Regions from separate parts of the Homo sapiens genome. Here all the other regions are linked to region 1. Evidence: fine-mapped expression QTL. A gene starts in region 1. Each other region holds a variant in brackets. All regions are shown on one strand. Distances are between the middles of the regions.

Region 1 (9,805 bases):
CCAGACTTTGTTTGAGGTTCATGATTGTTAGAAGGAGGGTTAGTTTCCTATAATGTTTATCCCCATTGCTGAAAGTCCTGTAGCTGAAAGTCCTGTCACTTTTTTTCTTAACCAATTGAATTAATAGTTAATAAATCCCACGTTAGGTGAAAATTGATTACATTGCTAGTCAATAAGTACCTACATTTGCATCATTACTCTTCCCCAAGTAAAAAGAAAATTGGTTTTCACATCCTGTTTGATATAGTACCTTAAGAAAGGACTCTTCATTCAGTCAAGCCACATTTTCTAAGCATCCAGAATAAGGCTCTCTGAGGGACAAAAAGGCAATCTTGGTCCCAGCTCTCAGGAAGCTACCCTAAGAGAGCTACTTGAAGGTGCTCTAGGGGTTTGGCTACAGAACTGGCACTGTGTGCCAAGGACCCACCACCCTCAGCGAGCTTCCCAGAGGCACACATGGCATGTGATCATCCCAAGCCTGACATCTTCCTACCAGGCACTTTCCTGCTGCGAAATTCCTGGCACCCAGTAGCACTTAGTGAAGGTGAAATTTTATGACAATAACATTTAAAGCAAATAATCTCACAAACTTCAGCACTGTGACTATCACTCATCACAAGTGAACTGATGCATTTCGCACCTGCTTTTACCCTCCAGAACTGCTGCAGCAGCCGCCCTAGAGCCATTCTGCAGTTCTGATGCACAGCATGATGGAAGCATATTGCAGAAGATTATTCTGGCTTTTGTAGATAGTGGATTAAATTGGGACAGTGTAGAATGGGAATTCAGATAGCCCATGGATGGACTTCAAAATATCACCCTCTAAAATTGGACTCAAATTTCATGTTCAGATGCCCGTTTTCCCCACTGCAAGAGGAATCCAACTTTCATCAGATCCTTGCATCAATTAAACTTTCTTTACTGCAAAAAAAAAAAAAAAAAAAAAAATGAATTCCTGGTCTAGAACCCTTTTTTTTTTTTTTTTTTTTTTTGAGAGGGAGTCTCGCTCTGTCTCCCAGGCTGAGTGCAGTGGCGCAGTATCAGCTCACTGCAAGCTCTTCCTCCTGGGTTCAAGCAATTTTCCTGCCTCAGCCTCCCGAGTAGCTGGGATTACAGGCATAAGCCATGGCACCTGCCCTTAGAACCCAGATGTTTTTGATAATGGAAATGATCCGCAAGTATTTTTAAACTCCCACAAGTATTTGCATATTTATGTACAAATTATGTTCCTAGTTTATCATCATTAGTTAATAAATAAAGGCACAATATCCACTTAGAATGAAGTTAATCATTAATGATAGGAAATGTAAATTAATGTTTAAATAGTTTTGATGGTTACTAAACGTTCTTATCCTGTCTAATAACCTTATACTGAGGCCAGTGAAGACCTCCTGCCTGAACTAAGAAACAAGTCTCTCATTTTCTTGTTTATTTGTGGCTTTTGGGAATCTTTTAAATCTTTTGAAGCCATTTATCTACTCTTTGAGTTTTAGTTAAAACTAGGTTAGGCAATCCATAAATCCTTTTAACCTGGTCCACCGAAATATATCAAAATATGCAGAAAATGATGTAATGAGAGAGCACGCCACTGCCAGCCCCTGAAATGCTTTGAGTGAGTGACCGCTTGAAATAAGCTTATAGACCAAAAATTAGTAACATTGGATTTCTAATTTTTAGTTGAAGATATATATAACAGAAATTCTATATTTGCTTCCCCTACCCCATAGATTGTCTCAGACACCCTACCCTGGAGACACCAAGTCCAGAAGGTGACTTATGCTAGTAATCCACAGATGAGGGATAAGGGGGACCAGCTGCAGAGCTTGGTGGTATCAGCAAACATGCCAAAGGAGGATCAAAATGATCAGATAGAGATGAAGGAAAAGACCAGCTGGGTATTTGATCAGATTTAGTAGAGAAAGGAGAAAGGATTTCAAAATGGTTCCAAGGTTTTTACTCCAAAAAACATGAAAAAGTTACTGGAAGTGATGGTGTCCTGGGAAGGAAGAGGCATTTATTGGGGCAGGCATCATCCACTGATTTATTTTGGAAGTGCTGTGATTGAGCTACTGAAAGATGCACCTGAAAACGTCCAGCAGGACAAAGGAGACACCATTCACCTCCTGAGCAACACATAGACCCTGACCTCAGCCAGCCCCACTTCTGGGCAGAGTGCTGGCTCCAAGTTCCATGCGTGAGAGATGGCTCTCCTCTACGGGTCCTTCAGCATTCCTGGGGGGGGGCTGCAGTTCTCCTGCCCTGCTCCAGCTGTAATCCAAAGCAGGGCTTTCCATCCTCTGGGAACTGGAAGAGCAAGGCTGGAGTGCTGGTGAAAGAGGTTTGAGGTAGGCCCACGCGGATGATGCTCTCAATGGACCCAGAGTGAGTCACGTTATGGCCCACATGATGGCTCAGATGGCTCTCTGCCTGAGAAGCTCTGAGTCCTCATGCAGACTGGACGCCCCTCCGTAGCTGCTCATCAACTTCCTTTCCCAGCCAGCCCCCAGGGCTTGCCCACTGAGCTCCTGAACCAAGGCAAACTTGCGCTGGGGACGGCGCCGCTGTGTGGTTTCCCTTGCCAAGGCTTCCCTGGCTGCCTCCACTTTCTCGTGGAGGCTTCCTGAAGGTGGCATCTGTATTTTTGTGAAGGGACTTGGTACCAGGCTTGGAGATGAACATGTTAATTCTCTGGCCCTGGACATCAGATCTGTGATATAGTTTCTCAATTTCCTGCTCTGAAGTAAGCCCTGGTGGGTAGTGTCACCATCTGGAATAGGAAAAGGGCTAGATGGGAGGGGTCAGTAGTGCTGGTGGCAGAGGCCAGTCTTCTCAGTGGAAACAGGCTCATGCACTTCCACGCAGGGAGGGCCGACGGTCAAGGGTGGAGGAAAAGCCACAATTTTTCGGTGAACCCATGGATCAGCATGATGGAGTCTTGCAGGTCTTTATCTTCCTCCAGGAGGCACCCCAAGCACGGAGAAGACCCACCAAGCTGCCTGATACCTCTGTCTAGCTCCCCTCTGCCCAGACAGGAACTGCTGTTCACCATTCATTCCAGACCTGGGCCTTTGAGGACAGGAGCTGTAAGGATGATTGATCGATTGCCTGTGTGTGAAGCCCTGGAAGGGCTCTTGCCTAGAATACTGTCCCTACCCTGACAAGGTAGAGGCCATGGTCTGGATGGCGGTGGCCCCCCCATTCATATGTCAAAACCTAACCCTCAATGCAAGGTGGGGCCTGCAGGTGACCAGGTCCTGAAGCAGAGACCTCATGAACGCGATGAGTGCCCTTACACAAAAGCCTGGAGGGAGCCCGTCTTCCACCATGAGATGACACACAGAAGGCACCATCTGTGAGGAATGGGCCTCAACCAGACACTGATTCTGCTGGAGGCTTGATGCTGGACTTCCCAGCCTCCACAGCTGTGAACAATACATTTCCGTGGTTTTATAAATGACCCTGTCTAAGGCGTTCTGTTACAGCAGCACAAAGGAACTAAGACAGTGGGCACCCGTATTTCCATTTAGAGGCGGAAACTGACTCTGAAGTGAGAACCGGTCCACTCTGAGAGCACATCGCCAGGGGAAGAGGACTGTAGCCAGGAAGTTGTTATGTCATGGGGTCATGGGAGGACCCAGCAATGTTGTTTCTGATGATTTCTGAAAGGCGGCTCTTTTCTGGAAGTGGACAGATGATGGGGGAGGGGCAGGAAGCTGAATTCACCACAGTGTCCGAGAACACTGTCTACCAGCGGGAGCTGTTCAGACACACCTCTGGCCAGTCCCCACGGCAGTGAATCTCCTGTCTCTGGACAACAATCCAACAGGGAAAGTGGGGAGGAGGGTTGGGAACTGAACTCTGTTCCACAAGTTCAACCACTGCACTCCACTAAGCAACTGGCACAGCCAGTCCCTGGTGAAGGCTTAAAGATGAGGAAGATGGGGTCAGCGCCTGCCCTCCTGGCCTCAACACATCAGGATGGAGGATTTAGGTGTTAGCAAAAAGTGGCTCAAAGTTCCAATGAAGGACAGGGAGCAAAGGGAGACTTCTTTTAGAAAGGAGACGTTGGAACTTGGATATGGCTTTAGTTAAGGAGCTCCAGGCATCTCAAGTCAGCCCTGAGAGGCAGCAGCCGTGTCTGCCTCTCGGACAGCTATGCCCCAGCCTCCAGCTCAGCAGCTGGCAGGCAGCAGGTGTGGGTGCAGGAATGAGTGAACTCATGGGGACCAGCCTCGGCAAAGACGCACAGTCCCCACAGTGCCCCAGGGGCTGGGAAACAGTGAGCAGCCACCAGCAAGACCAAGGCAGTGCAAGTGGCCACGGCTCAAGGTTTCCCCCAAGGAGGACTATGTCACTTAAGGAGTATGGCCTCTGAAGTAATGTAAATATGGCCTGGAAGATTCAGTCAACACCTATTTCCTTAGTGCCTACAATGTGCAGGTGCAGTTTCTGCTCCCGGAGTTCAGTCATGAACAATGCCACAGTCAGCCCTGCCAACCCACCTGCGTCAGCTCAGGCACCCAGAGCAATGTCACCTGGATCTGCCCTCCCTCCCATGTCACTGGACTCGCTGTCTTTTCCCTGCAATGAAACCTCCAACAGCTTTCCCTGCCACTGTGGGTGGAAGGGCCCTCTTCCTCTTCCCACCTTCATACAGCTTCCAGGCCACCTCCTTAAGAATCCAAAGCAATCTGGTCACACCACTTGGTGGGAAATACACCGAAATGTTAACTGTCCTTATCACTGGGGGAAAAAAATCACAGGTGACTTCAGTACAGCCTCCTCTCCTCTACCATCACTACCCTCCCTCCCATCCTTCCCCAGGTCCAGCCACACTGAAGTTCTCCCCATACCCCAAACACACCAGTAACTTTCCCACCCGGTGCTCCTGCCGTGCCCTAGGCAGGGGCTTTTAACCCCTACCTAATCCTCCGATTTGCTTTACTTTTAAATCCACCTCTGGAGCATAGACTGTGAGCTTCAGAGAGCACAGGTAAGTTCATTACTTTTTCAACAACTAGGAGAGAGCTGCGACGCACCTGCCCCGATCCTAGAGGCTGGGGACCCACCAGAGAAGTGACAAGTCCTTGATCTCAGGGGGCAGACAGCGGGGAGAAGGATGGATGCTAGCACGGAGAACACGCGTGTAAAGACAGAAACGCACACATCCACACCATGCCGCTGTGAAGCCGGCGCCCAGGAGGCTGGCCAAGGTCACAGGAGCGGCGGTGGCGGGCGGATCCGAGCACCTCTCGGCCTGACCCCAGAGCCTAGCTCTCACCCCGGCGAGGGACTTCCACCCCGACTCACCGCGGAATGGGGAGCGCCAGGCTGAACCAAATCCTGTGCTCACCCCTCCGTGCAAACCCCTCAAGGCAACTCAGGCCTCTGAAAGCCTTCCTACCCCCCCGCTCTCCGCTCAGGTCCCCACTCAACCGGTGCCCACCGCCCTGGCGCGCGTCGCTCCGCGATTACCGGCCCGCCAAACAGTCCCCGCAAAGTCCACCCTCCGGGGCTCCCGGTCCCTCAGGTCCCGCGTGCCCGGCCCTGGGCATCCGCAGCGTCCCCGTGGTATCGGACCCCCATCGTCCCTGACACCTGGCGTCTCCGCCCCCCGCCCCCGTCCCCCGCCCCGCCGTCCCTGGCCCCTGCAGTCCCTGGCCCGCGCTGCGGACCTCCGGCTCTGGCTTCCCCCGGGTCCCCGCGGCCCCCGTCCCCCCGCGTCCCCGCGTCCCCGGCCCAGCGCCCGCTGACGCCATGACGCCGCGGCGGAGGGAGGGGCCGGGGCCGGGGCCGGGCCGGGGCGGCGCGAGCGGCTGGAGCAACGGGCCCCGCGGCAGCTGCGGGCGACGCGGTCGATGGACATGGGCACCCAGGGATCGGGGCGCAAGCGGCTCCCCAACCGGGAGCGGCTCACGGCGGAGGACGACGCGCTCAACCAGATCGCGCGGGAGGTGAGCGCTCCGGGAGGGCAGCCGGGGGGCGCCGGGCGGGCGCGGGGGCCGGACGGCTGTCAGGGTCTCTCCGGCGTCCGTCTGTCCCGCTGTGCGTCTGTGCCACTGCGCGTCCGGCTCCAGGCGGGTGGGCCGGGCAGGCGCGCGCCGGGGCGCTGATCCCCAGGCGCTGCGCCCCGGCCCCGATCTCCGAGGCCTGCGGACCCCGCACCCGTTCTCCAGCCCCGGGCCCAGCCCGCGACGCTGCGCGCCCTCCCCCACCCCGGCCACCGTCGGCCGCTGCGCCCTCGGGAGAGGAGCCGGGCGCCGCCAGCGCGCGAGGTGGCCCGGGCTGGCCGGGTGGGGGCGAGCGCCCCGCTTTGTTGTGCGGCATGGGAGGAGGCGGGGGCTTAGGCCCGACCTGGAGGCAGTGGACGGTCGCCGGAGGCCACATGGCCCTGCTGAAATGGCCGAGTCGCTCAGGTGACCATTTGTCATCCATCCATCGATGTCACTCAAGGTGCAGCTCAGAGATGAACTTGGGGATCACTGTGATTTTTCTTTCAGGACTGAGCCTGGAAACGGGTCCAGGCACACTGAAACGTCTTCATTAAAGTTTCCTGGACAGAGTTTATTGTAACTAAGATCATGTTTGGTGATGAACTTTACCTGTGACAAATTGAAGGCGCACTAGAATGGGTATTTGTACAAATGCCTTTTTTTTTTTCCTTCCGCAAGGATTCTACCTTAAGGCTAAAGAATGTACATGACATCCAGAAAGCCGTACAGGGACAGAGAGCAGCAGCTTGGGAAAAGGGGAGCCAATAGGTTGCGGCCCCAGGGGGACAAAGGAAGCTTAATTTTTGACTGTGTTCCCTTTGTACCATTTGAACTGTGTGCCAGGTGGGTGTATGAATGCAAAGAAAGTCTCTGCCTTGTAACCCGCCTTACAGGTTCTTTTCCGTGTTGGCTTTTCCACATGTGATTCTTCCCACAGGAAACACCTCCAAGCCATTTGGACTGTGGTGTCTGGCTGTATCCGTCAGATATTCTGGGGGATCTACTCTGTAACCAATCCTTAGGTGTTTGTAGTTGTAAATACCTGATTTTGCTCTTACGGACATGTGGCAGTCACTCAGTATTTGTTGACTACTGAGTGAATAAAGACTTCTGTTTTTCTCTGTATGATACAGAAAAGGGCTTTCCAGGCAAACCCTTATTCATTCCTGGAAGCCCACTGTGACCTCCAGGAGACCTTCCAGACTCAGCCCTCTCACATCGCACCAGGCCTAAGTCTCCCTGGCTCCACGGCCCTCCATGGCATGCCCGCGCCTGGCATGGCAGTCAGGATACCTTATCATTATTTGTCCACCTGTAGAAGGTGACACCCAGACAGGAAATATCTTACTTTTGTATCCCAAGAGCTCAGCACAGAGCCAGGCACATACTAGGTGTTTGTCTATGTCTGTTACATTAATTAATAAACAAAAGAAGTACAAGGCATTTAAAGGACCTTTGGCTAAATATAGACATTTGCTAAATATAGTAGCTTGAGTATAACTCCCTCCTGTGAAGACAGTCACTTATGTATGCATTTGACCACAGTGCCTTACAAGTGTTCCCTGCAAGGGCCAGAGGTGGCCAGTGAATCGCAAGCCTTGTCTTGATGTCAGTGGTTATGGGGCAGAAGAATGAGAAGAATGAAAATTTCCAGAGTTTGCCTTTTATCCACTGGTGTTTCTTTCTTCTTTTTTTTTTTTTTTTTTTTTTTTAACACAGTCTCACTCTGTTGCCCAGGCTGGAGTACAGTGGTATGATCTCGGCTCACTGCAACCTCCACCTCCCAGGCTCAAGAGATCCTCCTGCCTCAGCCTCACCAGTAGCTGGGATTACAGGCACGCACCACCACACCCGGCTAATTTTTGTATTTTTAATAGAGACGGGGTTTCACCGTGTTGGCCAGGCTGGTCTCAAACTCCTGGCCTCAAGTGATCTTCCCGCCTTGGCCTCTCAAAGTGCTGGGATTACAGGCGTAAGCCACTGCGCCCAGCCTATCTGCTGGTTTTTATAAAATAGATTGAAAAGGAAGGCAAGGGAACACTCCTTGGGTTGAGAGCCCTGAGGTCCTCCCTCCCACCGAGGGAGATGCAGTTGGAGTTACAGAGATAGACTTGTGAGTCAGAGCTGGGCTTTCAAATGACATAGTTCTTAGCCAGCTGTGCCATCCTAGGAAGGTGAGTTACTCACTCTTCTCTGGGCCTCTGTTTTCTCGTCTCTAAAATGGAGAAGAAGAAACCTCCCCTGGCTGTCAGAATTAAAGAAAGTGGGTAGCAATGTAAAGTATGTAACTAGGCGGTGGGTAAATATGAGAGCTTCTTACACGCCCCTCCCGGTAAAACCCAGCCGTAGGTGCAGCTGTTACTAGTGCTGAGTAGCACAGATTGATAGGGTTGGAGGGAGCAGGTGTGACATCTTATGTTTTAGTACAAATTAACTTCTATTTCTCAACTGTGAAAATGAAAATCACTATTCAAATGGCAAATATCTACTCCTTGAATTCATCAGGGTTCTTATAGAAATCAACAAAATCGTCTTGGGTTCAGTACTTTCTTATTCACTCATTGACTCAACAGATACAAGCCATGGTATCCAAATTCCTGTCCTGGGGAGACTGGAGAGTCAGGGAGGAACCCGGCGAGGACCTGCCTGCCCTCCAGGAGTTGGGTCAGAAAGGGGTTGACACCTGTAGATCAATAATGCTAACCGAAGACAGGAAGGGATCTGATATAAAAAGGGCGTAGACAGTGTTCTGAAGGTTTGGACATGAGAGAGAATCACAGCCGGCCAGTGGTCTCAGAAGTGGCTTCCTGGAGGAAGTGGCATTTTGAGTTCTTGAAGGCTGTATGTACCAGTCAAGATGCTTTGGCTGCTGGGACAGAAACCCTGACTGGACTGACATTGACAAGGGGAAGTATATTGGCTGGAGCACAGCAAGCCCGGAGGCAGGGCAGGATTCCCCGCCAGCCTCACCAGTGGCTCCGGCCTCTTTTTCCCACAGCACCTGCGCAGCTGGTTGGGCTGGGCCATCCTCTGTGGGTGGCCTCATCCTCAGGCTGACTTGCTTCATGGAGGCCAGCTGGCCTTGGCTTTCCCGGGCTGCCACTGTGGAGCCCACACACCGTCTCTTCTGGTGGCTCTCTCCAGAGAGCTAGCAGTATCTCCCTGGTAAACTTTCATGAGTCTGTCTGGCCACTCCTGCACCAAGCTCTTTGACAAGGACCATGGACTTAGGGGCTCAGTGCCTGTGGCAAAGGGGGGTGGGTCTACCCTGTGACCTGTCAGACTCATCCTGGGACTGGGGAGAGCCGGCCTCCCTGAAACACTTGGGAAGGTGGGGGCCTGAATGGAAACTGGGGAGGCTTCAAGGAAGTGGGAGGGAGTGGGCTGCCACTTGGGCCTGGCACCCAAGAACATGCCTTCTGGAGAGTAAGTGGAAAATTCTGGGCTGAGGTCATTGGGAAGCCTGAGTCACCTGGCAGGGACGTGGGTTCCAGTTCGCTGGAGCGAGGGGAAGAGCTAGGCTGCCCTGTGCAGGCAGGGCTTTGCACTCTTCTGGGTAGAAGCAGGACTCGTGGTGGGGGCAGCCTTTGGAGGGTGCATTTCTGCTTCTGCAGCCGGTGTCCTGCTTCCATGTGATGGTTTAAACTCTAGGCAAGCGTGTATAGTAAAGGGAGTTATTTGCAAATGCTGTATTATCGCAAGTCAATTATTTCTCACTCTCTTGTTGCAGTGGAATTCAGGCGGGATGTTATCAGGAGAAAGGTTTAGTACGCACTTGCAGAAGCTCATTAGCACCAAAGGCATGAGCTGCG
Region 2 (9,805 bases), 35 kb after region 1:
AACCACTATTCTAAGATTTTCATCTTCATCAAAGTAAACTTACCCATGAAGGGGCATTTTCTGAAGAAGAGCCCCCAAACCCTTGTTTGCAGTGGTGGGAAAAGGCTGGCGGTGGTAGGGGGCATCCTTGCACCATTTTGGTTTCAGTTACAGTGGAGCTGAGGTTGGATGAAGAATCACAGAAACAGGTCAAGTGTGAGGATGCACGTACCAGCCAGGCAGGGGAGCGAAGACAGAAATGGGAAACAGGAGCAAAATGAAACAGAAATAAAGAGAGGAAAATAATTTAACAGTGAGTAGACAGGCAAAGGCAACATATGTAAAATTGGAGTATTCTAAGAGGAAAACCTAAATAAATGGAACAATGAATATTTTCACATATGAATTAATAAGGCATTCCATAAAGAAGAGTCGAATCTCCACCATGCCCCAGAAAACATAGAGATAGTACAGTCACTACTGAAACAGTCTAATCGTGTTTTCAGATGGCCATGATAAAGAGGTTCTTGAGAAGACAGGCAAAAAACAACAACAACAACAACAAATCAAGATCAAATGGGAAAATATCCAACCTGGCCTCAATTTCTCCGTGGCAACATTCACTATTAGAAGAAAGTTATGGCAATGTCTACAAAGCCTTAAGGAAAGAAAGCGTGACAGAATTGTTCACGCTTCAAACTGTCATTCAAAAATAAAAGAGGAGAAAAATATATTTGTTTATATAGGCATATAATTCCCTAGAAGGATATGTAAAAAAATGAAATTCCATTTTTAAAAAATGCAAGGATTCAGGAATATCGTCCCCATAATTCCTTCTTGAATAAACTATTGAAGACAATGTCTTCCACCTGACATTGTTCCATGGAATCACTGAGATCCTTTATGAACCTGTAGGCTCAAGCCACAGCCCATATGAATTAAATTAGAAGCTCGGTGATAGCACTGAATTATCAATACTTTTTTAAACCCCAAGGTTCAGAACGAGTGCAACCAAGAGATAAGTGAAAGAAGTACACAAGAGAACTGGCAATGAGCGTTATTTAACTGTGGGACTAAGACAAGCATGGAAATCCTAAAACCAAGGAGAACCACCTAAAAAACTGTGACAAACAGTACAAGGATTTAGGAAGGCAGCTGGGTATAAGCTACTGCCCAGAAATCAATAGCCTCCATATATTCATGCAATAACCAGTTAGAAGACAGAATGGAAGAAAAGGCTTCATATCAATAGCTATAAAATATATAAAATACCAAGGAATAAGGTTGGCATGAGTGCAATTTATATAAAGAAATCTTTAAAACACTACTGAGAAACCAAAACTTTCAACAGCAGAAATGGCATACCATGTTCTTGGATAAGATGACTTAACACTATAAAAATATCAAACCTCACCAAGTTTATCTACATAATGCAGGTCCCAATAAAAATATTAATAGAATTTCTTTTGGTACCAGATAGCCTGGTTCTAAAACTTGTATGGAAAAATTAACAAGCAATAATAACCAAGAAATTTTTTCAAAAAGATTAGTAGGGGGCTGTGCATTAATCTGTTTTCATACTACTGTAAAGAACTGCCCAAGACTGGGTAATTTATAAAGGAAAGAGGTTTAATTGACTCACAGTTCAGCATAGCTGGAGAGGCCTCAGGAAACTTAAAATCATGGCAGAAGATGAAGGGGAACCAAGGCACCTTCTTCACAAGGCGGCAGGAAGGAGGAGTGCCGAGTGAAGGAGGAAGAACCCCTTATAAAACCATCAGATCTTATGAGAACTCACTCACTATCACCAGAACAGCATGCGGGGAACTGCCCTCCTGTTTCAATTACCACCACCTGGTCTCTCCTTTGACATGCGGAGATTATGGGGATTATGGAGATTACAATCCAAGATGAGATTTGGGTGGGGACACAAAGCCTAACCATATCAGTGTGGTTAGCCTGAAGGTATGAAAATATTATAAGTCTGTAATTAATAAAACTATATGGTACTAGCACATCTCATGAACAGGCAGGTCAATGGTACAAAACGGAAAATGCAGAAGTAGATCCAAATAAATGATGAACTTTTCTATACAGTAAAAGGGGCATTTCAAACCAGTGGGAAAAGATAAGTTATTATTATTATTATTATATCTTTTTTTAATGAGACAGGGTCTCGTTCCCTCACCCAGGCTAAAGTGCAGTGGTGCCATCACAGCTTACTGCAGCCTCAGATTCCTGGGCTCAAGCAATCCTCCTGCCACAGCCTCCCAAGTAGCTGGTGCTACAGGAACACACCACTACACTCGGCAAATTTTTTTTTATTTTTAGTAGAGATGATGTCTCCCTATGTTGCCCAGGCTTGTCTCAAACTCCTGGCCTCAAGCAATCCTCCTGCCCCGACCTCCCAAAGTGCTGGGATTACAGGCAAGAGCCACTGTGCCAGGCAGAAAAGGATATGTTATTAAAGAACAGTTTGGGGACAGAGAGCAAACCATGTGGAATACACTAAGTTAATGCTTCATACCTCATACCAAAATAAATTACAAGAAAGTCAAAAGCTGGCAAATGGAACCACAAAACAACAAGAAGAAATCAATTTTTACCAAAAAAACTATATATAATTTTATATATATTTATATTATATATGTTTATAATATATTTATATAATGTATATTATATATTTTTATATACATATAAATATATATATTTTAGAGACAGAGTCTTGCTCTGTTGCCTAGGCTAGAGTACAGCGGTGCGATCATTGCTCATCGCTGCCTCGCTCCTGGGCTCAAGGGGTCCAGCCACCTCAGCTTCCCAAGTAGCTGGGACTGCAGGCATGTGCCACCACGCCCAGCTAATTTTCCTTTTTTGTAGAGATGGGGTCTCACTATCTTACCCAGCCTGGTGTCAAACTCCTGGCCTCAAGCAATCCTCTCCCCTCAGCCTCCCAAAGTGTTGGTATTACAGGCGTGAGCCACCGCAAGTGGCCGAGAAGTTTAAGATAATATTGGAAAATATTTCGTGTAAGTTACAAATCCCATAAGTTACCCCAGAAAAGATGTTTAGCTTTGTCTTACATAGACATTAAAATATTTATAAAGGCAAAAGCCAATGTTAAGGTCAAAAGGCAGCAAACAGGGAAAAAATATAATATTTGCAACTTGTGTCACTAAAACTAATTTTCACAAGAGGAACTCTAAAAAGTTATTAAGAAGGCCAATGATACGCGAGAAGGCAAAAGAAATAAAATAGTTTGTTAAAAACAAAAGGAACTACACATGGCTCTAAAACAGAAAGAAGTCCAAACTTCACACATATTAGAAGTATTCATTAAAACTACTCTAGGTTACCATCTGCCCACCCCACGCCCCAGCACACTAGCAGGGATTAGGAGATGGCTTGGCAACTCACTGCGTAGTGTAGATATGGGGACATAGGGACCCCTGTGCTGATGAGAGAGTCCACAGCAGCTATCTCCACAGAGTACAGCTGGCCAGTGTAGGTTTGGGGACATAGGGACCCCCACAGTGCTGATGAGAGAGTCCACAGCAGCTATCTCTGCAGAGTACAGCTGGCCAGCATCTGTCCACTTCAAAAGGCACATGCTGTTTAACCCGGAAGTTCTACCTCTGGGAATTTATCTTGCACCTCTACTCCCATGATATGAAATTCCAAGTCATTTGCTGCAGTCTTGCTTGTAGCAGAAAAATGTGGAAACAAACAAATTTGTCTGCCATAAAGGACTGGTCAAACCTGTTGCCATCCATACAAGGAGTGCCACGAGCTCCTGTGCACCTGTGGAAGGAGCTCTGAGCTAGATTGTTTAGCAAGAAAAGCTTCAACACACAAGTTCAGTGAAAAAAGCAAGGGCAGAACAGCGCACGGTGCTACATGTCTGTGGCAGAAAAAGGGAGAAAAGCATGCGTTTTTGAGTTTATATATTCCATCACCTTCAATATACAGCGTCGGGACACCTGACCACCTGCAGGACCCACTGTCATCCTGGGAGAGGGAGGAGGAAGCTCTCGGATCTCCTCTTGTGAAAGAGGCGAGATTATTGCTCAGCCTGGCTCCAGAGGCACGCAGTCCCTGTGCCCCGAGAAACTAACATGCCATCTCTGCTCTCCCACCGCTTCCTGGGTTGGGCTGCGGGGAGAGGCCTTGCTACAGTGGGTGCCTCATCAGCACTGTGAACAAACAGGGAAGGATATCTGGGGCCACGCAGGGAGACCCTGGGGGATCCTGGGCAGAAGCCCCTGAAGTGATTGAGCTGTTTCCTGGGCCCTCTGATGATTCTCCCTCTGCCTTGGAGGCTTGGCTTCCCCTGGCTGCTGCTAATTCTGGAGGACACAGTGGGGTGGGCCACATAATGGAGGCTGGACTGTGTGTCCAGTCCACCCAGATGCCACCATGCCTGCCAGTCCCTCTCCTCCTTAGAGCACAAGCCCTCTGATGCTCCCAGACAGTGGAAACTTTTTGTTCCCCAAAGCCCTCCAGCTGGCCGGGCTGCCCTCCCCAGACTCCCTCCTTCCTTCCAGATGTGAGCAAATCCCTTTCCTTCCACCTCGCTCTCGGCCCCTGGTTCACCTTCTGTTCCTGCCCAGGGCAAACTGCCCTATGTGCATCTCTGTCCTCATCCATGAAACCATCCTTGTCCTCACTGTCGATGGAATTTTTCAGTGATACCTAACATCTGTCCCAGAGCCATGCACGTTCCGAAAGCACATTCCAGGGGGACAGTTGTGTCCCTGGTGCAACACGGGAGTGGGCACACATTCTCTGTGCTGTGCATGGGGACAGCTCCAGGAAGAGAGAGGGCACTGTTTTCCTGTTTCCTGAGTCAATCCGCTGTAGTTCTGTGGCCCAGCTGAGTGGCATAGGCTCTCCTGACCCAGGTACCTATCAGCCCCCAAAATAGGTGTTGCCATGATTCCTTTGGACAAAATGTAAAATCTGGCTGAAGACTGAGTCCTCGTGCACCTAGCGTGACCCATGACAGCATGCAGGTGTTGGTCTGTAGGGATGCCATAACAAAGTGCCACAAACTGGGTGACTTAAAATAACAGAACTGTATTCTCTCACAGTTCCGGAGACCGGAAGTCCAAAGTCGAGGTATTGGGCCAGGTGGGTTCCTTCTGGAGGCTCTGAGGGGAAGGTGTTCCAGGCGTCTCTCCAGCTTCTGGTGCTGCTGGCAGCCCTCGGCCCTCTGGCTTGTAGACACATCACACCAGGCTCTGCCTCCGTCTCCACGTGGCCCCCTCCCTGGGTATTTGTGTCTCTGTGTGCAAATTTCTGTTTCCTTATAAGAAAGTCATTGAATGAGGGCCCACCCTAATCTAGTACGACCTCATCTTAACTTGATTGTACACGCAAAAAGCCTATGTCCAAATAAGGCCCCATCCACGGGTTCTGGGTGGACATGAACTTTTGGGGGATGT[T/C]ACTGAACGCAGTGCAGGGTTCTTACATTCTCACCATCACGTATATGATTTTATTCTTCAGGGTGCTAAGGTGTGGTGTGTGCCATGTGCTCTTAACCCCTTAGAAAAGATAAGGACAATTTTTTTTTCAGGTCCAATGTCTGAATGTATTTTTTTTCTTTCTCTTAGGATTTGAAGATATATAACAATATGTCATAAACTGACCTGAAATCCTTGTTTGTTCCGCAGCGAAATCCATTAATAATCCCTATAACTGGGACAGTTTTATGTTCCCATTCTCGGTGTGGCTATTTATAGTGAAACCTCACTTTCCCTGTGTTGGTTAACATTAAAAACTGGAACTGCTTCTGAGGTAGGAGGCGGGACTTGACTCCAGAGGCGGGGCTTGGACACTGGGCCAGATTGAGGACTAGCTAAAACAGGCCCGGTGGGGAAAGCAGTCTTCAATCAGACACGCCCACCAGCGCTATGTCAATTTACCGTTGCCATGACGGCACCCAGGCATTACCGCTCCTTTCCACGGCAATGACCCAGTGATTACTACCTCTTCCTTGCATAAACCGCTCCTTAATCTGCATGCAATTACAAGTGAGTATAAACAGGACTGCAAAACTGCCCTGAGGTGCTGCTCTCTGCCTGCGGGGTAGCCCTGCCCTGCGGGAGCCGGCAGGGAGCTGGAACACTGACACTTCAGTAAAGCTGTTTTCTTCTACCTATGACTTGCCCTTGAATTCTTTCCTGAGCAAGGCCAAGAACCCAGATGGGCTAAGCTCCACTTTAGGGCTCGCCTGCCCTGCATCAGTTTAACTAAACTATTAGAATTTTTAGTTTAAAAGAAATGAGTAAGATTGTGAGCATTCTGTGAGATGCGGAGTGAAAGAAGGTGCTGTAGTCTGAACGTTTGTGTCTCCCCTAAATTCATGTATAGAAATCCTAACCACCAAGCTGACTGTATTAGGAGGTGGGAGCTTTTAGGAGGTGATTAGGGCATGAGAGTAAATGAGATTAGTGCCCTTATAAAACAAACCCGGGGAGTTCTTTCCCCCCCCATCCCGCCATGTGAGGACACAATGGGAAGGGGGCCCTCACCCCTTCTATGAACAAGAAAGGGGGCCCTCCCCAGACACTGAATCTGCTGGCACCTTGATCTTGGGCTTCACAGCCTCTGGAACTGGGGGAAGTTAATTTCTGTTGTTTATAAGCCACCTAGTCTATGCCCTTCTGCTACAGCAGCCTAAACAGCTCAGCCTTAATGGACGAGGCACATGGAATGACTTCCGGGCCTCTGACAGGGTGCTTGGGGAGGATGGTGTGATGTTGCGTTATCACTCACAGACACTGTGGAACTGACTGGGTTGGTGGAGCGGGGACCCGGGGAAGAGTTCAGTTCTGTTCTGGGAATGTTGCCTTGAGGCAGCTGAGCACTACCCACAGGGAAAGGTCTGGCAAAGGTTCACGTGCATTCGCCTGGGCCATAGGGGAGAGGGGAGCCGTCAGCGGTCAGGGTGGTCAAAGCCACATAGTTGCATGAGGTCTCCTAAGTAGGTCAGTGGAGCAGAGTACCCAGGGTGGAGCCCCGGGAACCTCAGAAACAAGGAAGGGGTGAGCAGAGGAAGGGTCGCCCTCAGGGCACTGGGAGGGAGGAGCAGGGTGAAGGGTGGGGGCAGAGGGGAAACAGCCATGTCCATGCTGCAGAGAGACCCAAGGGAGACCCGGGGAAGAATGTCACTTGCACCTTGCAAAAGGGAGGGTCCTGGCGGCCTCAGCCAGAGCCGTTTTAGTGAAGTCATGGGGAGAAGGACCACAGAGGCTTAGTCCTGGCTGGGGCCGCAGTGGGACTGGCAGTGGAGAGGAGGGGGCCCAAGCCAGGGAGATTGAGTTCTTGGCAAAGAGGCCGGCGGCGTTCTCCACTGCGTTTCCATCCGCAGGTGCGCCTGCCGCCTGGCCTGTCCACAGTGTGCTGGTTGCTGGTATTCAGTTCTGGATTGTACCTCTGACTGGACTGAGGTCCATCAGCAAATGACGGGGCCTCGGCGGTGTGGCAGTGTGTTCAGCTGCTGGCATGCCGCCTCGGGAACAGAAAAGTCACGTTGTTGTGTATGCGGGTAACAGCTCCAGGGAGGCGTGAAGAGAACTTCCTGGCAAGGAGTGCTGCTCCAAGACTGAATGGACTTTTTTTGAAGTGCAAGGGTCTGGCCTCTGGAAGGGTGTTTTTGCTGCCACCTTTGAACTTCTCTGTGAGTTTTTAAATTTTGAGCAAATCGCCTTTTATAATCATTCTATATGTACTTTTTCTACCCAACGGCTGCATAGTGTTCTCTTCCCACAGCTGATGTACTTAAGCCCCATCCTTCTCTGGTATAAAGAACGTTGCGATGAACATCCACTGGCAATCATCTTCCTACTCATCTTTGATTGTTGCTAGAAGGGAAATTGCTGGGTTCAAAGGATGCTGACCACTTGTTAAGACTCCTGGAGCACCCAGATTTCCATCCTTCTTAATCTCGTGTTCCATTACATTGCAGAATGTAGTGACAGCCAAGAATTTCCATTCATAAAACTCAATGTAGGGTTTTCTTTGGAAGCTAACAAATGACTTCAGGCTTGTCATCAGACCATTGCACTGTGCTGACTCTGAAGAATTTGTAAGTTCTTCACATCACTTTAAGAATACTTATAATTTTACTTATTCATGAAAGCATTTAAATAAGCTTCTTACTATTAAATAATTTCTTATTGTGAAATAAACCATTTACTTCATTAACTTATGTTTTTTAAAATCAATGAAACTAAAATTCTAAGGTTAAAGAAAAAATTCTAAGGTTAAAGTAAAATACAATAGTAATTTAGCTTAAAAAAAGAAAAAATGCTGATTTTCTTATTTACTGATGTGAATTCTCAAGATGTTTTTGTATTACTTATTGAAATAATGTTAATTTCTGAGCCTGTGATTTTGAACAAAACATGTATAATTGAAGTAATCTATAATCTGTGAAACAGGTATCTCAATTTTTCTCAAAGGTTTTAATTAGAAAGTCAGGGTTGGAATCCACTCTTCACGTAAGAATGAGATGGTTTCCAGAGATACCAACAAGCCAACACATCTTAATTTGATGCCTTTTTATTATCAGCAAAATATTTAAAATTGGGGTTTTATTCTGAGTAACTTATTTCATGCTATGAAACTGCCAAAAACAACTACAAAAATAAAATGAATTTATGTTCTTTATAAAATGTTATTAATATGAAAACCGGACACTATGTGAAAGCGATATTGTGTTTATGTAGGGAGAGTGTGTTAACATTTTTTTCAGCATGGCTGAGTTGGCTGTTTTTGAATTTGAAACTTCTGCAGTCTGGGTAGACAGTGCCACCTCCCTGCAGCAAACATGGGCATCCCTTACTGTTCTGAAGACCCTCAAGCTGCAGTCAACACTGGGGTCGTTTGTGGAAGGATTCTTTCTTGCTGTCTTGATTTGCAAGAACACCTCTGAAGGTCTTTGAATAGTAAATGCTGTTTCCATGGCAACTGCAGTCTGGCTTCAGTGATCCCTTAACCTGTGTGCCTTTGGCTCAAAGCACCCAGGAGCTCACGGCCTTCCCCAGGGGCGTCCCCCTCGGTCCTGTTCACAAGCATGGACTCTGGCATGGACGGCCCCACCCTGGCTGCACCACCGATTGTCCACATGACCTCAAGCAGGTTATTTGGCCTTTCTGTGCCTTCCTTGGAAAAATGGGTCTAATACGTGGGCTTGTTTTAAGAATTAATAAGAGAACTGGCACACAGCACTCGGCACAGTGCCTGGCACATGGAAAGCTCTTGAGTCGGGCTCCATCCCCCAAATCGAGCACCTCAGTTGTCTGTAAATGGGCGCATTGGCAGTCCTGTGCAGCAATGCAAGATATTCTTGGTTTTTGGTTTCTTTTAAATTCTTTTTAGGTTTCTTTTAAAATGATCAGCAGTCTTTGATGATTTATGAGCCTGTGATTTTGAACAAAACATGTATAACTGAAGTAATCTATAACTGTGAAACACAGGGATCCCAATTTTTCTCAAAGGTTTTAATTAGAGTCAGGGTTGGAATCCACTCTTCACCTAAGAATGAGTTGCTTCCCAGAGGTACCAACAAGCCAACATGTCTTTGGTATGTTATTCTTCTTGCTCCTCTTCTTGGGTGTGGGGATTTTCATCTCTTCCTGGAGACAGGGAGGCCCTGAGAGGTCTCGGTGGTGACGGGTTGCAGGCAAGAGGAGTGAAGCAAACCCTGCTGGTACTGCAGAAGCCACACGGAGTGAAGAGACATGTCCTTGACGTCATAGAGTGGAGTGCGCTTTCTTTCTTTTGTTCTTTCGTTCTTTCATTCTTTCTCTTTCTTTCTCTCTTT
Region 3 (9,805 bases), 72 kb after region 1:
GTTTCTCTGCAGTCTTGTTGATGTCTTTGATTAAGGGCTGCTACTCTGGGTTGTACCAGAATATATGGTGTATGCATCTTACTACGTTTCTAATGTCCAAAAATGCTGAATTCTGAATCATGGCCCCAAGGGTTTTCAGAGAGAAGTTGTGAACCTGTAGGAGCTTTTCTTGGTAAATGGTAGCAAAAACTGTATCAGAGTGAGACATGGTGAACAAAAGCAAAATGCAGTTCCTGTTAAGAGGCTAATGTTCAGGTAGGGAAGGAAATGTGCTGAGTGGTGATGGGAATTGGGGGTCATCATGGGTGGGGGGTAGGGCGTCACCCAGCGGCTGCCCTGGGCCATGGGCTGGGTATAGGCACAGGAAAGTGGTTGTGGGTGTTTCACACTGGTTTGTGCCAGTTCTTGCTCTGCATTGTGTCCGTGGGTTCAGGGATGGGTCTCCTGCGGAAAGGAGGGACTGGGGGCCGCACCCATGCAGAGGAGAGCCGGGTTGGTCAGAGGAAGTAGATTTGGCAAGCTCCACCTCAACTAGAAGACAAAAGCAGGATCTGAGTGGGAGCCTGGGCTTCTTCAGCAAGTGGGCACCAGCCCTGGAGCTGTAGGAGAGGGTCCGATGCGGACAGTGGAGACACTGTGCATTTCTGCAGCTTTTGTAACTTCCCTGTGTTTGCGATGGCTTGTGTCACCCCGCTCTCTTTCCACATACTGATTAGCATTCAGCCCTTCTAAATGACCAGCACTGTCCCAAGAAAGGGCTGTTAGGGGAGAGCGTGGACACACAGTCTCCCAAGTCCCATCTCATTATAGGTACCTGGGCCAGGGTCCCCAGGTGTGGGAGAGTGGAGTCTTGACCAATATGGGGATGAATCAGTTGGCACGAGGCGGGCTGGCCCTGCTCTAGCTCAGTCTGAGATGGTGGAGCGTGGAATCATATGGTGTGTGTTTTAGGCATGTCATTTCCCCGGGCAGGTAAGACATAAATATAGTAAGGTAGGTCTTTTCTAGTAGTATTGAGAGTGTCCTACTGGGGCAAAGATGGAGACTAAATTTCCCTTTTTCTTTAAGAGTCAGTTTCTGTTCAGCCTGAGTTAATATCCCACAGCGGAAGCCTCCTTAGCAAATTTCAAAAAACCCTGCAGTCTCAACTGCCACTTATGCTGAGCACAGGAAATCAAGTTATTTATAGTTGCAGAACGGTGTTTCAGCGAAGTTGATTGGAGAGTTACCTGATTATAGTGAGATTCTTATCCAATCCCTACAGAATTGTGAGACTAAATGTTGGTGCAGCATGTTTGGTCCTCAAAAGGCAATGTCCAAGAGGAACTTCTTATCCCCGAAAAATCAGGCTGTGTGACTCAGCAAAGGAATTGTTTATGACTGGTTACTCATATGCCAGTGCTTCCAGAATATCTGCTCGTATTTAAAGGAGTGATCTTGAAGCCCCAGAGGCCATAATGTTTAGATTACCAACCTCTTCACCAATCAGTAAGTCCATTACATCTCACTACGTGTTAGACATGGGACAGGAGAAGAGGATTTTTATTACCTCACTGTTATTACTGGAGGCCGCCCAAATTTGTTTTTTGTTTTTTTTTTTTAAATAAAGAAGCTTGTTTTCATGGAATGGACTTACTAGAACTTTTATTATTCAGACTACCTAGATAAAATTAAGTAAATTCGTTTCTTTCTCCCAAATTAAATATTTTGACTACATGCAAGATTTAATCATTCAAAATTGCCATGTATTTGATTATAGACCAGTAGTATAATCCCCCTGCCCCAGGCCAGATTCCAAAACAATAAACCAAAACACACACACACCTGGCAACAGAAATTATATGTATTCCGAGACTCATTCATTCATTTTGGAAAGGGCCAGTGTTTCCAGTGGTTTCTCCTTGGGATTGTAACTTTACAACTTTAAAACTAGGTAAGTAGTTTTCCCTTGAATCTAAAGTATAACTACTTTGTAGTAGAGAAGTAATTTATCTTAAATCACTATAATGAAGATTTACTCTTAATTTTAACCAAAATGTTTCATTTATTTGTGTAATGAAGATGATCAAAGCAACGCCACCTGTGATCCTTCTGTCTTTTTTACTGTATGTGGCACGTGGCTGTGTGATTTTCCTAGGGAAAGGAGTGGGCTTTCCCTGTGGGTTGAGAACCTCTGTCCCCCTCCTCTGAAGTTTCCCCAGTTTTTCCTGCTTCTCTGCTAGGTGGGTGCCTTAGCATGCTTGTCTTCTCATCGTGCTTCTAAACTTCTCTGAACCGGATTTATACTCTTAGGTCAGTAGCTGTCAAAGAAGACACTAAGTAGTGAAAGTAGCTAATATTTACCAAACCCCTGCTGCGCCCACCTGGTGTTTTATGTGAAGGTCTTCTCTAACCCTTGCTGTAACCTCATGGGGAGCAGATCGTTTTCTCTCAGTTTTTCAGATAAAGAGGAAACTGAGGCTCAGAAAGGTCAGGGACTTTCCAAGCCCTCACAGCTAGTCAGCAGTGGAGCCAGTTCAGACCCAGGCCTGCTGACTCGGAACTGGTACTGATAACTGTCACCACTGTATGCAATGCTGCAGGCAGGGGCTGGCAGGTAGTAAATGTGCAAGATATAGCTGTGGCTGCCACGGCTGCTGCTGCTGCTTTTGTCGCTGTTGTCAGCTTTTCTTGGCAGCCCTGCTGTCTCATACCCCAGTATTGGGGCTGAAGGATTTCTTTTTACCAAAGCTGCCTCTTAGGACAGAAGTCCTTGTCTTGAATGCATACTGGGAAGTCTTCACTCTGTCAAACTTTTCTGTTCTCTGCCTGGTAATTTCCAGACAGAAGAGAACATTCAAAGAACGAACTTACTTTCCTTCTTTTTTTTTATTGAGACAGTCGTGCTTGATTGCCCAGGCTGGAATGCAATGGCACAATCTCAGCTCACTGCAACCTCCGTTTCCCAGGTGCAACCGATTCTCCTGCCTCAGACCTCTGAAGCAGCTGGGACTACAGGTGCCTGCCACCTCACCCGGCTAATTTTTGTATTTTTAGTAGAGATGGGGTTTCACCACATTGGCCGGGGTGGTCTCAAACTCCTGACCTCAAGTGATCCTCCCATCTCGGCCTCCCAAAGTGCTGGGATTACAGGCATGAGCCACCACACCCGGCCCAATGAGCTTTACTTTTCTACATAAGGAAAATAATGGTAGAAATGAAATAGCTGTGAAACTTGTTTTGCTATTTTTGTACCATGCTAAAATGTTAACTACTGCTTATGTCGGCATACACCTGAGAGCTGCTGTGATTTAAGCCTTTTTATTTTTCTGGGTATGATGTAACTCCTCCCCTACCTCATCCAAGTAGATAAGTTCATGGAGGATAAACATGACAGCTGCTGTTTCTTTTATAGCTGGTTCCAGGGAATATCCACTGAATATAGGAAAGATTGTCAGTTGCTGTGTGCTGCCCTGGTGCTGGTGGAGCTTTCAGCCTTCTTCTCAGAGGAAACAATTTAAATGTTTTTGTGAAACCCTAGAGGTCTGGGGTTTGTAGGACAGTCTTGAGCAGAGCAGGCAAAGGTGAAGGGAGTGGAGCCCAGACGTGCTGCCTGGAGGGAAACCTGTCACCTGGAGAGGAAACGGCACAGGGGAGGCCCAGCCGCCCTCGCCTCTCAGTCCCGCACGTCTCTGTTAGTGGTAGTCATGGTTCTTGTATTTCCATCATGTTGAGGCAATTGAAGGAAATATGAAGATTCATTCATCTCAGGAAAAGCAAGAAATGTATTAACAGCAAGAGTAGAAGTTCACTTGCATGGAAGATACTGTATAGCGTATTTATTTCTTAGCGCCAGTGGGAGTAGCTGCTAAGCCCAAGATTGTGTTGTGAGGTTTGAATAGGTCAATGTGTGAGTCATCAATAAAGTAACATCAATCATTTTGTTCCCGATTAATACGTTTGCTATTTTAGGATGCGAAGGACTTTAAAGAAGCTTATTATTCTGAAAAGCAAAGCCTGGAGATTTCCAGTAGCAAAACAGACACAGTCTGTGGACAATCTCAGTGTACAAATAATTCACCTCTGGCATGAACCCAAAGAATTTCAGAGGGGAAGGAAGCTCTTAAAGATTACGTCCCCTCCTACTTCTTTAATGAGGGCTGGGGTTCAAAAACCGAGTAACTTATCCAGGCTCACATAACTGTAGGTGACAGAGCCCAAGCTGGAGGCTGTGGCTGGGTCTTCAGACTCCTTTCTTGACAGTCTGCACCTGCATAAACTCAGACCTTTACTGAGAACAGTGCAGCCATAGCTGAGAGAAGCAGTCGGCACCCAGCATTTCTTGGACTTGTCTGCCAGGTCCCCCGAGTGCAGAGGACAGTGTGCTGGCTCCTGGGGCCTGTGGGCCCGGCCAGGAGCAGCCTTGTAAGCTAAAGCCTTCTTTGAAGGTGGCCGTCTTACCGTAAACTTTCATGGTAATTTCAGTCTACTCCATAATTTGTCTGAGTTAATTTTGATGGAAACATAGTGTTTTAAGTAATCAGTTAGGCTTTGATCTCTAACTTTATGCCATCCAAATCTTCATGATGGCCTGAGCACCAGGCACCCAGACCTGTGCTCTGAATTGTGCCGGGGCTGGTTCATACAGTGTGATGGAGAGACGAGAGATCCACACTGGAGTTCTGAAGCTGTGGTTCTCAACCCTGTCTTTTTACAAGTTCCTTAACTTCCTTACTAGCCTGAAATGAAATGCATAGGTGAGAAAGTCAACCAGCGCACATAATTTCGAGTCAATATAACATTTCCTTAAAAAATAAAATACAGGTAGTTTATAGTAACATAATAAGAATTTTGATATAGAAATACTCAAGACCAAGTACACCAGCAGTTGAATGCAGTGATGAGACCTGCACACACCTGTGCCTGGCGTCACAGGGAGGCTGACACAGGTGTGTTGCACTGAGACCCACACACCACCCCTCATGTTGCTGTCTATGACGTGACATTCTACAAAGTTGACTAACTCTCAGGAAAGTTCTGAACAAAGCCAAGTATCATCATCTTCCTTCAATTTCCATGTCGATTGCATTCCTGGAATAGTTCATGTATATTTGAACTGTGTAAAACATATTTTGAGTTTATATGTAAGTTGCAATCAGTTTGTAAATCCAAAAATTAAAAATAGTGGTTTTTCTTTTCTTTTTTTTTTTTTTCTTTTTTTTTGAGATGGAATTTCGCTCTGTCGCCCAGGCTGGAGTGCAATGGTGAGATCTCGGCTCACTACAACCTCCGCCTCCCGGGTTCAAGTGATTCTCCTGCCTCAGCCTCCTGAGTAGCTGGGATTATAGGCATGCGCCACCATGCCCGGCTAATTTTGTATTTTTAGTAGAGATGGGATTTCACTATGTTGGTCAGACTGGTCTTGAACTCCTGACCTCAGATGATCCGCCTGCCTCGGCCTCCCAAAGTGCTGGGATTACAGGCGTGAGCCACCGCACCCGGCCAAAACAGTGGTTTTTCTATCTTCCTGAGCAGTCAAGGGAAAAGTTCTTCCCATCGCAGGCGTGTCTGAATGCGGGATGGTTGGCCGACCTGGCCCTGCCCCCCCGCCCCAATACCCTTAGCTTCTTCCCAATCTTTTTGACATCCCAGTCCCCCCAACATTTCCAAAATGCCCTCTAAGTCAACACTTCCGCCACTGCCAGCTGCCACCCCAGAGTGCCCTGTGCCTGGTAACGATCGTTCTCACAGTCATGGCCGTAGGGAAGGCTCTTTGTGGTTCCTGGGGGACTTCGTGAGATTGCCCACATGAGCATTTCTTTTGGAACTGAGATACAGTGCACATCGCCTCTGGGGGACATGGGGTGGTGGGTACACGGA[A/G]CCGAGGTGAGCCTCCCTTGCGTTGCGGAGGTGCTAGCCTTGTGCCGTCCGTTCTTGTCCACGTCTGTGCAGGAGAACATCACCCGGCCCACTTGGTTGCTGTGAATAGCAAACTTTAGAGGCCACTGCATCTGAGGGTTGGGGGGTTTGCAGAGAAAACAAAAGTTGGTGGCTGTGGCTACTTCCTATAGCAAAGTGGCTCAGGAAAGGGATCCCGTGTCACAGCCTGGGTACACCACGGCCCCTCCAGGAGCTTGATTCCTTCTTAGCTCAGGGGAAGAATCGCACAAGGACCGAGGCCCCTGCTTGTCTGTGAACAAACTGGCCTTTGTGGCCACTTCAGGCTTCGGCTGCATCATATTCCTGTCACATTCACGTGAGTGAACTTGAATTACATCCTTAACACTTTTCCAAAAAGGTTATAAACTAGACTGGTGATGTATCATGGGGCCTAGAAAAATAATGCTGCTGCTTTTTCACTTCTCTGCTTGACGCTAAAACCTGGAGGCGAAAATGAATGTGTGTAATTAATAGGAGAACTTCCTCCTGTTTGCAGAGTGCTTTACAGCTGGCAAACGGCTTCTCTCCCTGAACAGCCCCGTGGGGCGTCATTTCCATCTGACATCTGAGGAGAGCTGCTGTTCATGGTCCAGTCCTCTGTCCATTGGCCCACTGGGTGTCCCTAATATGCGCTAACAGGCTCCTGGCAAACGGCGGGCATGGCAGCCACGAATCTGCACATGAGCTGTATGCCCTGGGTCTCCCCTGGGCTCTGCGGGGGGAGGTGGGAGCCGCCTCTGGTTCACATGCGGTGCTTTCCAGGCTGCAGGGCCTTCTCAGCCTGGGTGGAAGGAGTGACGTCAGAGTATTTCTCAGGAACTGCCTGCCCTAAAGTTGTGGCTCATAAACCCCTTCCAGCTTCTGTGTAGAATTCTGGACCCCTAGGGTATCACCACAGAGTTTAAAAGCAGAGTAAGAACATTTCCTGTGACTGTAGGGTGAGAGGCCCTGGGATCTGTAATTCTACACTAGGCTGGAATCCCAGAAAAGCTTCAATGCTCAGGAAATGTATGAGCAGTGCCAGGATCCCCTGAAGGAGTGTGGGGCTTTTGAAGCAAGCTGCCCAGCGAGCCTCCCGCAGCACCTGCTGTCCCTTTGCCAGCAGTCAGGGCCCCTGCCCCACCAGTGTTGGTTGTGTTTCTGTTCTTTGAGGAGACCACATGATGATCTTCTGGTAGGAGCCACAAGAAGGATACAAATGCCATTAGAGCTGCTAGAGCCCCAGACGTCACTGGAATTGGGGTTCAGGGTGTTGGGCTGTCCCCACCCTTAGGCAGTACTCCCACTGCCTACAACACCTCCAGCGCAGGCTGAGGCCATGCGAGGATGGAAGCACATGTGGGCTAGGCCAGGAGGGCGTGCGGGAGGGCTCTCCACTCTGCGCTCCGCTGGGGTTTCTCCTTGTGTCCTGGTCAATAACTTCTTCTCTCTCTGGTTCTCCTTGGCCTGAGCCCCCAGCCTGAGCCGGGCTGTCCCTGAGTTCCCTGACCCGGAAGAAGGGACGGCCATTATCTTTGGGTGACTGTCTTCTTATAGCTGGGAATCTCTGGGGCTCTGAGCGGGAGGCCCATGGGGAGCCCTGGAAGAACAGGCATGGGTTAGACTGTTTACCTCACTGCCCTGTGTGCCCTGCCCCGGTAGAAGCCGTTTCTGCTGTGTGGTTCTGTCTAGAACTAGAGCCCCTCAGGGCCCTCTGCATGCCGTGGGGTCCCTTTGCAAAGCACCTCCTAACATGTGCTTTTATCTGTGGCTCGGGATGGGGATGGTGACTTCTTCACGCAGTCTTCTGCAGGCCTCTCCAGCCTGGCTCCCGAGATGTCACGCATGGGTCCATGCAGCCCAGAAAAGACCCTGCAGGGGGAGAAGGGTCACTTTGGTGCCTATCTCCCCAGCTGGCCTGTGGGCTGGGTGCCTGGCAGATGGGGCTCCCAGGGAGGTGCCCCCATAGACTTGGGCTCCACAGCAGGCTGTGGGGCTGGCATTAATGTGGCTGGGAGAGCCTGGCTGTCTTTTTAGCCATTTGTTTCGGAGGCCCTGGGGGTCATACTTGTGCTTCCTCGTGTATTTTTAGATCTCTTATCACCGTACACACCACCTCCCTATCAGAGGGCTGTCATATTCACATATGGTAAAATAAGACGCAACAATAGAACTCGAGTCGTGGTTCGGCTTTCTAGGATTAGGACAAGGAGGCAACTTTGATAGTAAATGGAATCTTTTTTTCCCAGCCATCCCCACCCTCAAAGAGTATCTTGCTGTAAGACCTAGTTCCTGTAAAACTCTGTCTGTGGGGTCCCTGGCCAGGATGGGTGGGATCCCAGGGAAAGGGCCAGGCTGTGTGTTCTGAACAGGAATGGTTCTGGACCAACCATTGTGGGCATTCCTGAGAAGCCAGGGAGCCTGGATCTTGTCAGAGGAGCTCCTCCCTCTGCTCCATCCTAACCCCGCGGGCAGCAGCAGGAACTGAGAGAGGACACGGTGGGGGCAGCGCTGCAAAACCCAGCAGCGGGCCACCTTCCAGCAGCAGAAAGCATGAGTTTTGGTTTTGGGGCTCTTCCATTTCCTTCCTTCTTTTCTTTCTTTTTAAATTTTTGCTCTTTGTTATGAAACAGCAGCCAGACCGAGCTATGCATGTCCTGCTGCACGGCAGGGGCCCTTATCTTGAACGACTCCACATACTGGGCAAGGAGGTGGCAGGGGGAGGGGCTTGTGGGAACCCAGATCTGGGATGGGACTCAGCCAACAGTTTAAAGAGCCCTGTGCCCCCACTACCCAGCCTCAACAATTGTTAGCTTATAGCCGTTTACACCCCACCCAGGTTATTTGAAGACAAGTCAGAGGGAGATAATTTCACTGTACTCCTAAATGTTTTAGTATCTCAGCAAAGATTGTATGGGCAGAGAAAGGAGGCTTCAGGGTGTAGGACCCCAGGAGCAGGCAAGGGCTTGCTCTTTCCCTGTTGGCTCCTGTAGGGTGGGGACAGACCAGCCCCCATGAACCCTAGCGAGGGCCATGCCAAGAAGCCGCTGTTCTAATCTAATCAGTGGAGGATCCAGCAAGCTCGGATGGGAGGGAAAGAATGACTCAACCTGCAGGCCGTCTGGGGTATGCACAGTCTCGTCTCCTGAGTTCTCTGAAGCCCTTTGCAGTTTTTGCTTTGTATCCTAAACTCCACAGGCCCGAACCCTGGCACTGAGCTTGATCCGCTGCAGCCCAGCCCGTTCCTGTCCCCATGCTGGAAGCAGCCTGTCAACTCACTTCCTTGGTTTCCTGTTGCTCTTCCCACCCCATACCTGCTCCCCACATTTCTATCAGAGCCCTGTTTCTAAAACAAAAGTCAGATTCCGCTGTGTTCTTAAAACCCTTCAGTGGTTCTGAATTCTTTCAAGACGAGGTTCCAGATACGGAGGCTGAGGGCGAGGGTCTGCACCCCAGGCGTCTGCACTCCTTGTCACCAGCTCCTGGTCGCAGCCACCCCGGCTCTGCTTGTCCTGTTTCAGGGTCCGGCTTAGGGCTCCTGTCCTGCGGATGCCTTCCCCAGCCCCCCGGGGTTGGGTCAAGTTCTCCAGAGCAGCCCCCGCCCCTGCCACACGTTTCTTCCCCCATGTGGTCCTCATCACATGTACATTGTCACCAGGTGCTTTGCCTGTTTCCCTGGAGACTGGGCACCCAAACCACATTTCAGAAATCCCTCCCACTGTCTCAAGCAGTGCTGAGACAGCATGGCACGTTCACAGCACAGTGCATTCCTGTGGCCTCCCCGGGCCACGGTCAGCCCACAGGCTACTCACAGAAAGTGACAGGCCGTGTTCAGAAGCTCTTCAAGCAGTCTGACGTGGCTGTGGCCCGTCATGAGATTTTATATTTTACAAAAGTGTCAGTCGAT

Alleles and levels. Positions count from the first base shown, and alleles are read on the strand shown. Sizes are in standard deviations (SD) of each study's normalised expression. Not every link is listed here.
For the expression in pituitary of the gene that starts at base 5,801 in region 1, allele C in region 2 goes with a higher level than allele T (moderate effect, 0.46 SD a copy in GTEx).

The links. PIP is the estimated chance that this variant, and not a neighbour inherited with it, causes the effect.
Region 2: its variant is the best candidate, but not a certain one, in a credible set for the expression of LRRFIP1 in pituitary (GTEx, PIP 0.86).
Region 3: its variant is the best candidate, but not a certain one, in a credible set for the expression of LRRFIP1 in blood mononuclear cells (TOPMed, PIP 0.69).

The regions. Positions count from the first base shown.
Region 1 is chr2:237,621,787-237,631,591 of GRCh38, forward strand. LRRFIP1 (LRR binding FLII interacting protein 1) reads left to right here and starts at 5,801. Exons shown (of 24, transcript NM_001137550.2): 1 at 5,801-5,954. The coding sequence starts at 5,859. RefSeq lists enhancers at 9,208-9,707, 9,710-9,805.
Region 2 is chr2:237,656,968-237,666,772 of GRCh38, forward strand. All of the region lies in intron 1 of LRRFIP1 (LRR binding FLII interacting protein 1), which reads left to right. Among named protein-coding and RNA genes, the nearest start is that of LRRFIP1, 34 kb to the left of the region's middle. RefSeq lists enhancers at 5,716-6,257, 7,244-7,812. The variant T/C (reference allele first, on the strand shown) is at 5,421.
Region 3 is chr2:237,694,169-237,703,973 of GRCh38, forward strand. All of the region lies in intron 1 of LRRFIP1 (LRR binding FLII interacting protein 1), which reads left to right. Among named protein-coding and RNA genes, the nearest start is that of LRRFIP1, 71 kb to the left of the region's middle. RefSeq lists enhancers at 414-593, 2,916-3,125, 6,232-6,281, 6,292-6,341, 8,644-9,524 and 1 more and a silencer at 4,189-4,238. The variant A/G (reference allele first, on the strand shown) is at 5,860.